Homo sapiens: one gene and its partner. The protein of the gene in region 1 interacts with the protein of each later gene in a pairwise test. Each region holds a gene or a part of one and is shown in the gene's direction. Other genes may lie near its edges.

Evidence for each region. The genes of interacting proteins can lie anywhere in the genome.
Region 2: the proteins of COL4A5 (region 1) and SLC10A4 interact in binary tests that used the Homo sapiens proteins (3 or more experiments, as listed by UniProt).

What each region holds. Positions count from the first base shown.
Region 1 is NC_000023.11:108,694,838-108,699,329, forward strand, and holds the end of COL4A5 (collagen alpha-5(IV) chain isoform 2 precursor), read left to right. Parts: coding exon 1-84; intron 85-429; coding exon 430-602; intron 603-1,459; coding exon 1,460-1,541; 3' UTR 1,542-2,708; downstream 2,709-4,492. UniProt on the Homo sapiens protein: Type IV collagen is the major structural component of glomerular basement membranes (GBM), forming a 'chicken-wire' meshwork together with laminins, proteoglycans and entactin/nidogen.
Region 2 is NC_000004.12:48,477,526-48,486,649, forward strand, and holds the start of SLC10A4 (sodium/bile acid cotransporter 4), read left to right. Parts: upstream 1-5,817; 5' UTR 5,818-6,036; coding exon 6,037-6,626; intron 6,627-7,406; coding exon 7,407-7,617; intron 7,618-9,124. UniProt on the Homo sapiens protein: Transporter for bile acids.

The sequences.
Region 1 (4,492 bases):
ATCGCAGTTCACAGTCAGACGATCCAGATTCCCCATTGTCCTCAGGGATGGGATTCTCTGTGGATTGGTTATTCCTTCATGATGGTATTTTACACTCTTCCTTGCATTTGTCATCATAGCTGACTGTCCATTCCATCTACATTTCTTCCCAATATGAGGAATCCCTGTCATTTGCATAATAAGAAGCTTAAACTTCAAACAGCTTCTATCCAAGCACTGTGTTCCCCCTCACACATTTTTTGTAACATATTTTCATAATCTGCCTATTACTTTTTTTTGACTACCCTTGGTGTGGATACTATTGTCTTACCTCTGGGCCTGTTCCTTCACTAGATTTGAATTTGGCCAAGCTCAGCACACATCTTTGGATATTCACTAAGCTATTATGGCACATGGGTATTGCGGCACATTTTTCCTTGTCTTTTATAGCATACAAGTGCAGGGGCAGAAGGCTCAGGTCAAGCCCTAGCCTCCCCTGGTTCCTGCTTGGAAGAGTTTCGTTCAGCTCCCTTCATCGAATGTCATGGGAGGGGTACCTGTAACTACTATGCCAACTCCTACAGCTTTTGGCTGGCAACTGTAGATGTGTCAGACATGTTCAGGTAAAGTGCTTATAGCTTTAATTCAGGTCCAAAGCTTCCTTCAGAGATGCTAGGGAAGAAAGAGACAATTTATGGATGGTTTATCCTCAACAAATGTTAGGAATTTATTGGATTGTGTACTTTATTCTTGCTTGTTCTTCTCATATACATGACTCAGGTCAGAAAAACAGACTTGATTATTAATATTAGGTGAGTTTGGTTTGTGATAGCTTAGTAGTAATCCTTCAATAATGAAACAGAGATAAAGAAAGGTTATGTGACCTTCCTAATAAGTCAGCAGCTGTTCAACTAGATTGAGACCACCCCAGGAATTGAAGTTACAGTCTGTCTTTTCCCTCTCAGTCCAGTGGTCTCCTTTCCCAGGATATTTTAAAGATTCTCATTTAAGGGTTTGAATGAGCAAGACATACGTAATGTATGTACCTCAGGATACTTCATTCTGTTGATTTTTTTCAGTTTAAATTTATTTTTATGTGTTGCTTTTGGGTTATCACTACTTGGTATTTTTCTTATGGTCCTTGTTATCTATCATAACATCATCAGTTGCCCAGATTTCCCTCATCCTGTGAATATTAGAAAAATGTATGAGAGAAAGAGAAAAAGATAGAAAATGAGAGGGAAACACAAATATACAAAGATAATAGTGGTGGGGAGAATCGTTACAAAATATCTATGACCACTAATGGCTCTTAAACCATACTAGTCACTGCATTAGATCATATTGCTGAAAAGTAAACCATTAAGTCACCAAGAGAGCTACTTAACACACAAAAAATGTTTAGTTATAAATTTGAACCAGTAACAGAATTGAAATACCAGAAAATGTGGATCTGATTGTCTTATTTCTTATTTCCCAGTAAACCTCAGTCAGAAACGCTGAAAGCAGGAGACTTGAGGACACGAATTAGCCGATGTCAAGTGTGCATGAAGAGGACATAACATTTTGAAGAATTCCTTTTGTGTTTTAAAATGTGATATATATATATATAAAATTCCTAGGATGCAGTGTCTCATTGTCCCCAACTTTACTACTGCTGCCGTCAATGGTGCTACTATATATGATCAAGATAACATGCTGACTAGTAACCATGAAGATTCAGATGTACCTCAGCAATGCGCCAGAGCAAAGTCTCTATTATTTTTCTACTAAAGAAATAAGGAAGTGAATTTACTTTTTGGGTCCAGAATGACTTTCTCCAAGAATTATAAGATGAAAATTATATATTTTGCCCAGTTACTAAAATGGTACATTAAAAATTCAATTAAGAGAAGAGTCACATTGAGTAAAATAAAAGACTGCAGTTTGTGGGAAGAATTATTTTTCACGGTGCTACTAATCCTGCTGTATCCCGGGTTTTTAATATAAAGGTGTTAAGCTTATTTTGCTTTGTAAGTAAAGAATGTGTATATTGTGAACAGCCTTTTAGCTCAAAATGTTGAGTCATTTACATATGACATAGCATGAATCACTCTTTACAGAAAATGTAGGAAACCCTAGAATACAGACAGCAATATTTTATATTCATGTTTATCAAAGTGAGAGGACTTATATTCCTACATCAAGTTACTACTGAGAGTAAATTTATTTTGAGTTTTATCCCGTAAGTTCTGTTTTGATTTTTTTTAAAAAACAAACCCTTTTAGTCACTTTAATCAGAATTTTAAATGTTCATGTTACATACCAAATTATAATATCTAATGGAGCAATTTGTCTTTTGCTATATTCTCCAAGATTATCTCTTAAGACCATATGCCCCCTGTTTTAATGTTTCTTACATCTTGTTTTTACTCATTTCTGACTGGACAAAGTTCTTCCAAACAATTCTGAGAAACAAAAACACACACGCAGAATTAACAATTCTTTTCCCTGTGCTTCTTATGTAAGAATCCTCCTGTGGCCTCTGCTTGTACAGAACTGGGAAACAACACTTGGTTAGTCTCTTTTAAGTTACAAAAAGCCAATTGATGTTTCTTATTCTTTTTAAATTTTAAATATTTTGTTATAAATACTCACAGGATACCTTATTTCCCTAGCTATCATCTCCTGACTTAATGTTTTTTAAACCCACCAATATAAATTTAATTAAAGATATATGTTGTAAGGATGGTCTGTTGTGTATCTCTTCAGCCTGTGTGGAAAAAACCCCTGCTCATTTACAGATAGATTACCAATCTGCACATCAACAAGTCATCTCTTCCCAGGGAATCAGTTTCTCCACGCTTTGATCACTCTGTTAGTAGATAGAAAACATAGTAATGTAAACTTTTTCCAATGAAGAAAACTACCTATTGGAAGACATTTCCAAGATAATAAATTTCTTGACAACATTGTGTTAATGGCTAAGAAAGGAAACAACTGGCTTCTATTTGGGGAAGAATTCATTAATAATGTTTAAAGCAGGTTAGTGACCTAATATTCTTAATGATTAAGAATGAACACGCATAGTTCTCTAAAATAGTCAAGGACTGGTTAAAAATAAAATATTAAAAACTTCCATAGTAAAATTTGTGTTACAGCTAAAAGATAAAACAACCAAAACAATTTTGAGTATTCTAAATCCTAATATGGACCTATGTAAAATCTAAAGCTTAGAATCTCTGGTGGTAAAACTTAGGATCCAAACAATGATAACTATCTAATTATTTTATTGATTCTGGATAGCCACCAATCGCAAATTTTAGCTCTATTTTTTCATTTAGTCCCATGCATAAAGTCAGTAATGAGTAATTGTAACTGAAAACACCATATCACAGCCCCACAGATTCTTCTACATGGTGTACACTCAAAGGTGCCCCTTCTGTTATAGTCGCAAACACTAATTCCAGAGATTTTGCTTTTTGTAGCTTTCCCTCTCATTTATAGCTGGTTGAAAGCCTTGGCCCAAAAAGAACCTCCTTTGTTTGTTTGTTTGTTTTGTTTTGTTTTGTTTTGTTTTGTTTTGTTTTGAGACAGTCTCCTCTGTCACCCAGGCTGGAGTGCAATGGCGTGATCTCGGCTCACTGCAACATCCACCTCCTGGGTTCAAGGCGATTCTCCCACCTCAGCCTCCAGACTAGCTGGAACTACAGGTGCATACCACCACGCCCGGCTAATTTTTTGTATTTTTAGTAGAGACGGGGTTTCACCATGTTGCCCAGGCTGGTCTTGAACTCCTGAACTCAAGCGATCTGCCTGCCTCGGCCTCCCAGAGTGCTGAGATTACAGGTGTGAGACACCACGCCCATCCCAGAACCTCCTAATTTTTAAATTGTTGCATGTGCAGCTAGTCTATGTGTTTCTTAAATCTCCTAACTATTCCTAGCCCTGCTTTGTTGTTTGAAGTACACAAATTCATTCCAGGACATTAATATTGTTAACCCTCTCTTGCCATGAATTATTCAAAGATTAATCTAGCTGCTCTACTAGTTACCTATGGTGAGTTTTTTGTGTTTTGTTTTGTTTTGTTTTTGTTTTTGTTTTTTTTTGCTTTTTTATCATCTGTGAAATTTCCAGAAGTACTATGGTAAGTTTTACAGTCATACACAATTAATAGCTTTCTCACATTGGCAGGAAATGAATGAACTATTCTGCTTAATCAGATAGTTTGACTACCAAATATTTATGTGTACCAAATGTGGTTTTACCAGTTAATGAATCTTTCGTGATTCAGATGTTACTTAAGGACCAAATCCTAGTATTTTATAGCTGTGTATGTGTGTGTGTGTGTGTGTGTGTGTGTGTGTGTGTGTGTGTGTACCCACACACACGTGCACATGTATCTTCAGAAAAATTGAGGTCTACATGAATAACTTCCATTATATATATATTACGTAATATATATATACACACACACACATATGGATAAGTGTATACACACACATGTGTTGTGTAAGAAAGTAGACATTCCAAT
Region 2 (9,124 bases), on another chromosome or scaffold:
CCTCCATTTTGACATTCATGGGTCCACTTCCCCTCAGCTCCTCCCTGTGGCTTCCTGGTCCCATTGAGAGACCAGGATCACTTTTGTCATTGTCCAATTTACTTTCACTTCATTCTCAAAGTACTGCCTGCTCTAAGGTTCTTGTGTCTCAATGTTCCTCCCACTCAAACTGTTATTCAGCTACAAAACATATTTATCTCTGATACTGTGTTGCCCTCTCCACACAGAACCAGGCCAAAATTCCCTAGGGGACAAGGGAGGGCCTCAACCCATGCTGCCTCCTCTTCACCAATCCCCAGACAGCATCCCTAGCCCAGGCTTGTGCACCTCCTCTTTGCCCACCTAGTATATTTATTGGAATTTAGGGTTTATTTCCTAAATGCATGGAGATCTTAGCCCCTGGAGGCCACCATGCCATCTCAGTTTTCTAACAATCATCCGTCTCCAGGTAAGATTGCCAGGTGAAATATTTGAAACATCTTTTTACTAAAAACGTATTTGTTGTTCATCTGAAATTCAAATGTAACTGGATGTCTTGTATTTTTATTTGCTATGTCTAACAACTCTACCAGTGAGGCTTCCATAAATATGACCTCTGCCTGGCTGGTCCACCAGGCCACCCAGACATTCCTGAGCAGGTTTTAATATGCTTGAGTTCACCATGAGCAGACAAGCCAGGCCCTCACTGATTTGGAGTATCCAGACTTTTGTGCCAAGTGTATAAATGTAATATTGGGAATTAGTAAGTGTTTTAAGAGTGGCATACTTTTTGGACACAGAAAATAATCTTTCGTTTTATCCATCATTAGTTAGTTATTAAAGAGTAATTAATGTTGTTAGAAATGGACTTTTTTATTCTGTAAAATAGACTTAATTATATAAAGCAAGTATAATCAACAGGCCATGTTGCTTTTAGATACAAATCAGCTAAGAACAATGTTCCAGTCAGCTCTCCTGTTTGACGGATCTCTATTAAAAGCAAACCTTCCAGCTTCCTTTCAACAAAAGTGGCCAAAACAAACATGTCTGTACAATAGTCCCCCCTTATCCTCAGGGAATATGTCCTAAGACCCCAGTGGATGTCTGAATCTGTGGGTAGTACTGAACCCTATATATATCTACTATGTTTTTTCTATAAATACATACCTCTTACAAAGTTTAATTTATAAATTAGTTGCAGTAAAATATTAACAACAGTAACTGGTAATAAAATAGGACAATTATGACAATATGCCAGCATCACTACTGTTGCACTTTGGGGCCATTATTAAATGAAATATTAATTGAACACAAGCACTGGAATACTGAGACAGTTGATCTGATTACTGAGCCTGCCTACTCAGTGACTAATGGCTGCCTGTCTACACTACCTACCCATTGGTCACTAATGCCAGGCACCTGTAACCCCAGATACTCGGAAGGCTGAGGCAGGAGAATCGCTTGAACCCGGGAGGCGGAGGTTGCAGTGAGCCAAGATCATGACACTGTACTCCAGCCTGGGCAACAGAAGGAGACCTGTCTCAAGAAAAAAGAAAAGACAACAAAAAGGAATGCAAAAATCCTCCATAATCCAATATATTTTGGCCCAGTCTTTTTGAATGCAACTATATAAATACTTTTAAAGAAACTGGGGCCAAGAGCCACCCTGCAGTCTGCTATGACCATGCCTACATGCCTATGAATAGCCACTGCACTCCAGCCTGGACAATGTAACATCTCTAAAAAAATTTTTTCTAACAAAATACAAAAGAAAGAAATCAACATAAAACGGTACATAACTTGCTTTTTTCACATAAAAATATAACATGAAAATTTAAAATAGTTGCATAGTATTTATTCTATTATGTAAATAAAAAACAATTTACTCAACCAGTTGCATATTGTTGGATACTTAGGTTGTTTCTAATTTTTCTTCTACCAGTCTTATACGTTGTACTTAAATTGTCTGCAAGTCAGATGATTTCTGTAAATAGGCAAAATACATAATTTATAATAAAGTATTTTTATTATTAAACTGAAAAAGTTCTATTTCACTAGTAGTTAAATAAGCACAAAATATGAAACTTTTAAAACAGCATATTGACAAAGATTCTTAAGGTAGCAGTACTTACTTCTGGAAATGCAATGGAAGAAGCCCTCAAACACCTTTGAGGGTGCTGAGGTACTGAATACAACTTCTGTGTATGCTTATTGCTTTTCTGCCTACTCAACATCCATTTTTCCTCTTTCTGTTAACAGCACCCACTATTCCTCTGAGGAATCCCTTCCCCAAATTTGAGTTGATGTGTCTTGAGTGGGGATGAGACCACTCCCTTGCTTGAGTGAAAGCATTCCATCCTATGGCCACAATGATTGGTTGAAGGATGGGTACACTTCTCTTGCCTATTTTCTATTTAATTTTTAAATTTAAATGCTTCTACTCTTAAAAAGCCTCCTAGCTTCCTTTCAAGAAAAGTGGCCAAAACAAACATTAGTGTACAATAGTTCTCCCTTATTAATCCCAAGTTAACCCCAGGACTTTTATGAGAACTCCTGGAAGTAGGTGCTCTCTTTCCATGATTGTTTCTATGGTAGGATATATCCAAATTGATTGTATCCTTGCCACTGTAACATAATAGCATATATCTGAATCTTTTCCAGTACTGAAAAATGGCATCTAATTGCTTCAATTTAATTGCTCTGGATACTAGTGAATGTGACTATTTTCATAAACATGTTGGCTGCTTGCATCTCTTTTGTGATCTTGTGTCTATTCATGTCATTTGCCTCTTTTCCTATAAAATAACACAATAAAACTTATAAATTAATCATAAATTTTCTCTTAATTTCTTAAATGATGTTTTTACTATAACAAAGTTGAAAGTTTTTATGTATCCATATCTACTGAGCTCCCCATTATGATTTCTTCTGTTACTTTTTTGCTTAGAAAAATTTTCCATATCCAAAGATGAGATAAACACTTGCCAATCTTTTTCTCTAGTATTTTGTTGCATTATTATTATTATAATAGTTAACCCTTTAATCTACTTGGAATTAGCTTTGGTATACACTGTGCCACAAAGCTCTAAATTTATTTTTCCCCAAATAGCTAGCTTAATTTCATCTTCCTTCCTTCCTTAATTTTTTTTTTTGACACGGTTTGCTGTCACCCATGCCTGAGTACAGTGGCATGGTCATGGCTCACTGCAGCCTTGCCCTCCTGCGCTCAAGCGATCCTCCCACCTCAGCCTCCCAAATAGCTGGTACCACAGGCATATGCCACCACAGGCATGCGCCACCATGTCTGGCCAATTTTTGTAGTTTTTGTAGAGACAGGGTTTCACCATGTTGTCCAGGGTGGTGTCAAGTTCCTGGGCTCAAGAGATTTGCCCACCTTGGCCTCCCATAGGCGTGAGCCCCATGCCTGGCCATATTTTCTAAGTACTATGTTATCTCTCCCTTTTACATATTGTTTCCCCCTTGGGAAAAGAATACTTCACTTCACCAGTGTCACCACACCAGTGTCATCACACCTGGAGAATGGGCTTAAACCTAATCCTGGGGTTTTCTCATACATAGTGAGGAAGATGAGAAAGAAGGGGAGGCCAGAGCACCTGTTTTCTTTACAATGACAATCACCCCATCAGCAGGAGTGACATCAGGTGTGTAGGTCCCAAGAATCCCCCAAGATTGCAGGTGCAACATGCCCCATGATTTACAATCGCAGCCCATCATCCCCTTCTTTTTTATTTTTTCAGATGGAGTCTCAGTCTGTCATCCAGGCTAGAGTGCAGTGTCACGATCTTGGCTCTCTGCAAACTCCACCTCCCAGGTTCAAGCAATTCTCCTGCCTCAGTCTCCTGTGTAGCTGGTACTACAGGCACACACCACCATACCCAACTAATTTTTGTCTTTTTAGTCCAGATGGGGTTTCACCATGTTGGCCAGGCTGGTCTCGAATTCCTGTCTTCAAGTGATCCACCTGTCTCAGCCTCCCAAATTGCTGGGATTGCAGACAAAAGCCATGATGCCAGGCCCCTTTCTGTTTTCAGTCTTCGCCCATTGCACAAGTTGCCGCCCAAGTCCCTCCCTAAACCCTGAGAGGAGGTAGTTGGATGAGTTGAGTTGGTCTGCCTCTAATTACTGCTTATTTAATGTGATTGTGAATTTTAATATCATTAACATGATGAGGGTTTCTGAGGCAAATAGGAGTGGTGCCTGCACAGTTGGCTTCAGCTGGATCCCTTGCCATTTGTGTTCTTGGCTTATCTCATTCTGTGGTTTCAAGACTGTGAAGGCTCAGCAGTGCCTTCCCTCCTTATCTTGTCTGTTTCTCCACACATCTTCCCTGGGTCTACTAATGTAACGGTTGGGTAGCATGGATCATTGTATATCTGAATATCTTTCTTTTTACCTACATAAGGTGACATGTCAACTTAAAATATTTTTGGTCACAACCCACTTCCTTTAAAGTTTAGCTCACTGAAGTTTTTTTTTCTGGGTTTAGTGTTTTGGAAAAGTGTAAGGGTACATTATCCTCCTAGATTCTTGCAAAAGCTCTGCCCTCGTGGAATTTACAGTCCAAAAGAGAAAAAATAAATTATTTGTGATGAAGAGTGCAATATGCTTTGCATTTGCAAAGTCTTACTTTTCATAGTCTCCATCATCTTCATGAGATTTGGGGAGGAGGAAAGGCTCAGCCCACCCTTGGGTAATAGAAGTCACTCTGTGCCAGGACAGGAGTTAGGGAAAAGTTCCCAGATAGAAGAATTCACTATATCTTGGCTCCTTGTGAAAGCAACCCTGGGCTAAGACTGAGCCTTGATTTCATTCTAGAAATTCCTGTTGGTTTTTACAACTCAACTGACTATCACTTTATGGTCACCCCCAGGGAGCTAGATGCCTCCTTAACAGGCCCCACCTGGTTGGTAAGCAGCGAAATTATTTTCCTTTCTACATGCCATCTAGTGACTGACTTAAAAGTTGTTGCATCTCCATTCCTAAGAGCTCTGCTTTTGAATTGTTTTGGGATAAACCTGTCTCAAGCAGGGAATCTCAGCACTTTATTTCTTTTCAGTCCTTTAATCCTAATGCCAGGGCCTTACTCATAAAGCTTCGTAAATCTGTGGCCACTGAAATATCCTCTCTCCACCTGCCAATAACTTCTTAAACACACATTTTTCATGGAAATTGTTATTAGCCAAGCTCTTCTCTGCCCTCTTTAGGGACACATCGCCGTGCAGATTCAGCCAGGTACTTGTGGGTTCGGTTGATAAGACTGAGAATTCCTCGTTCCTCAGTTTCCTCGTTTGTAAAAATCGAGCTTGTAAAAATGGTATCTATCTCACGGCTTTGCTGTAAGAATCGAATGAAATAATGCACACGCACTTGCACAAAACCCGCTATATTATTATTACATTCTACTTTAAGACTGAAAATCATGCAAAAAATTGTTTGCAAATTCAAGCCAGATATCGTGTCCTGCTTACTAGAGAATCGCTCATATTAAGTCAAGCACCCCTCTTAGGGCTGCAGGCTATAGGAACAGTTTCTGCCATGAGCGTGCATCGATGAGGTTATCCACCCGCCCCCTCCACTTTGTGTGTCTGGGTCTCCAGATTTCATTATAAAGAGGCAGAGCCCATCAGAGAACTTGATCGGCAGCCAGGAACGGTTTTTTCCTGCTCTGGTCCTTTGTCAGGTCTTTGTTCCGCCCCTGGCTACACTCGATAACAGAACCACTTACTGGCGATTCACAGGAGGGGACCGGGCGGCAGGGCGGGGCGGGGCCTGCGGGGCGCGGGGCCGCGGCGCGGAGCCGGCGCAGCGATTGGGTTCACCCGGGGGGCCGCGCTGCGCGGAGTGCCAGGCTGCGGGCGGCTGCAGACCTGGGAGCGGAGACCGGCCCGCCGCCCCCGACGCCGCCGAGCACGTCAGCGGCGCGCAGCCGGGGCTCGGAGACCGACGGGCAGAACGACGGGCGGCGACTGCGGCGACCGCGGGACGGCGAGAGGCACGCGGCGGGAGGGGACCGGAATCCGCAGCTCCGGCCGCGCCATGGACGGCAACGACAACGTGACCCTGCTCTTCGCCCCTCTGCTGCGGGACAACTACACCCTGGCGCCCAATGCCAGCAGCCTGGGCCCCGGCACGGACCTCGCCCTCGCCCCTGCCTCCAGCGCCGGCCCCGGCCCTGGGCTCAGCCTCGGGCCGGGTCCGAGCTTCGGCTTCAGCCCCGGCCCCACTCCGACCCCGGAGCCCACGACCAGCGGCCTCGCGGGCGGCGCGGCGAGCCACGGCCCTTCCCCGTTCCCTCGGCCCTGGGCGCCCCACGCGCTCCCGTTCTGGGACACGCCGCTGAACCACGGGCTGAACGTGTTCGTGGGCGCCGCCCTGTGCATCACCATGCTGGGCCTGGGCTGCACGGTGGACGTGAACCACTTCGGGGCGCACGTCCGTCGGCCCGTGGGCGCGCTGCTGGCAGCGCTCTGCCAGTTCGGCCTCCTGCCGCTGCTGGCCTTCCTGCTGGCCCTCGCCTTCAAGCTGGACGAGGTGGCCGCCGTGGCGGTGCTCCTGTGTGGCTGCTGTCCCGGCGGCAATCTCTCCAATCTTATGTCCCTGCTGGTTGACGGCGACATGAACCTCAGGTACGGATCTGTCTATTCCTTGGGCATCTGTCTCATCCCAGACGCGCGTTTACGGCCGTGGGCTCACGACGAAGGACAGAGGCAGTGGAGGGGTTGGAATTAGGCGTGGAGGAAGGAGGAGAAAAGGAGAGGAAGTTGATGACGCCCCGGCTTTAGAAGTCAAGGCCGACCTGCAGGTTGTGCTGCTAGGGGAGCAAGCTAGACGGCGAGGGAGCTGCTCCAAGGCTGGGATTCCATGCGCAGCGCGGCCCTTCAGCAGGGTCCCTCGCCGTCCTCCCCGAGCGTCGGGGTGGCAGCGCAGGTCGTTGTCCAGTGGAAGACAAAGAGAAGGGGGAGTCTGAACTAGAACTCGCCGGCAACGTAAAAGTAAAATAGGGCTACTGGCCCGTCAGAGAAAGTAATCTCACATAGAGTGCAGGATTGTTGAGTCCGACCAACAAGTAGCAGTCAGCAGCTTTACCATGGCTTACCTTGCAGGGGGCTTGCAAGGAAGAACGTTCCTTCCCCTCAGAATCATCCAGGCTCAATAGACTTTATAATGTCGAGGGCAGCAGTACCGAGACAGGGGGCTTGTTTTTCCTCCCTGCCTTGGGTTCATAATTCCATCGGTGTTAGACGTGCTGCTCTCTTGGCACTCTCCTCGGATGTAGGTTCTGCCCAGACTTCAACCCCGGGACTTGCAGTCTCCCCGTTCCACCTCTACTCAACATACAAGAAAAAGGTTAGCTGGCTGTTTGACTCAAAGCTCGTTCTGATTTCTGCACATTCCCTTTTCTGCAGCATCATCATGACCATCTCCTCCACGCTTCTGGCCCTCGTCTTGATGCCCCTGTGCCTGTGGATCTACAGCTGGGCTTGGATCAACACCCCTATCGTGCAGTTACTACCCCTAGGGACCGTGACCCTGACTCTCTGCAGCACTCTCATACCTATCGGGTTGGGCGTCTTCATTCGCTACAAATACAGCCGGGTGGCTGACTACATTGTGAAGGTAAGGCCCCCTCTTCCCTTTCCATACTAGCTTGGAGAGCCCTTGATCTCTGACCCACAGCAGAAATGTTAGGAAGTTTGGAGAAGGCGGAAAGGAAGAAAAGGACTTGGAAGTAGTTGCATGGATAAAATTTTTTTTAAAAAGTTTATGCTACAAAGATAACTTCCACTTTTGGGATTCCTAGAATGACAGCTTTAATTAAGACACAGCTTAATCAAAACCAGCATAAGAGAACTATCAGTACTCATTGGAAGGAAACAGATCATAGCAGGGTGGGGAAGATGACAGTGTAATTAAATGGCAACATATTTTCCACTAATTGTATATAATTAAACATAAAAGCAGATTAAATAAAATTACTTTAATAGAATTGGTGCAGTATTTTAGAAATGCATGGCTATCTTTTCAAAAATGGAACTCTAATTCTGAGAAACTCTGTAGTAGGTTCCTTTAACATTTTATTAAATTTTTAAAAGTAAGTTGATACTAATAGGACAAAAAGTAATGGAAAAGTTACATTGTAGTAATAGAACACACAAAATATTGGCTTTAAAGCACAAAATAAAATTGGGTCCTGGATAAATAATGGAGGTTATGTTGACCTTACTAAATGTGTTTCTTTTTCTTTCTCCATTGCAATATTTTATATGGCTTATAAAGCTAGTGAAAAGATAGGGGATTTCTATAATTTGTGCAATATTTCTCCTAAGGCTTTGATTTTTTAAAAAATGAATGCTTTCTGTAGCAGTAGAGATTTTAATAGTTTAGTAGATTCTAGTAGTTGACTGGAGGAAAAAAAATCTTTGCAAAATTAAGCTGTCTTTGAAAATTCAAAAACAGTAGCAAAAAAGAATAAACCATGACCAGGATGCTGACTTCAGGTAATTAATCAAATAAAATACGTAACTATTACTGCAAAATGCACAGGCAAATTCCTTTAGACAAATGAAGAGAAAAAGAGCCACCCTAATGTTTCAATTATGTAGATTCAAGAAGACATAATCTTTTGTTTTACTTATTTTCTAAAGTAATTTGATTATATAGAGTCAGCTTTTATTAATATGAAAAGTAGAGAGTTCTTTTCTGTGCATATATCCAGGCTTGAGTAAAAGAAATCCTGCTCCATAATACACATGTATATGTGAATGTAAAAATGTATGTGTACATGTAAATATGCATATATTAATACCTGTAATATATACTCATAGATACTCTTGAGATGCATTAAGAACTTGTTAATCTTAATCATTAAGCTAATGCTATTAATGTGATGGCATTTACTATAAAACCTTAGGAAGTCTAAGAGAAAGTCAATCAAATGACCTATTTACACACCCAAAACAAGAAATATATTTAAAATAAATATATTAATAAATTAATATATTTAATATTTAAATATAATAGACATAAGATTAGCTACCTTTGAATTTAAGGTTAACCTAGCCCTATTCTTTAATTAACACACTATTAAGAAACGGTTTATATAATTGTTACACCTTTGCAAACA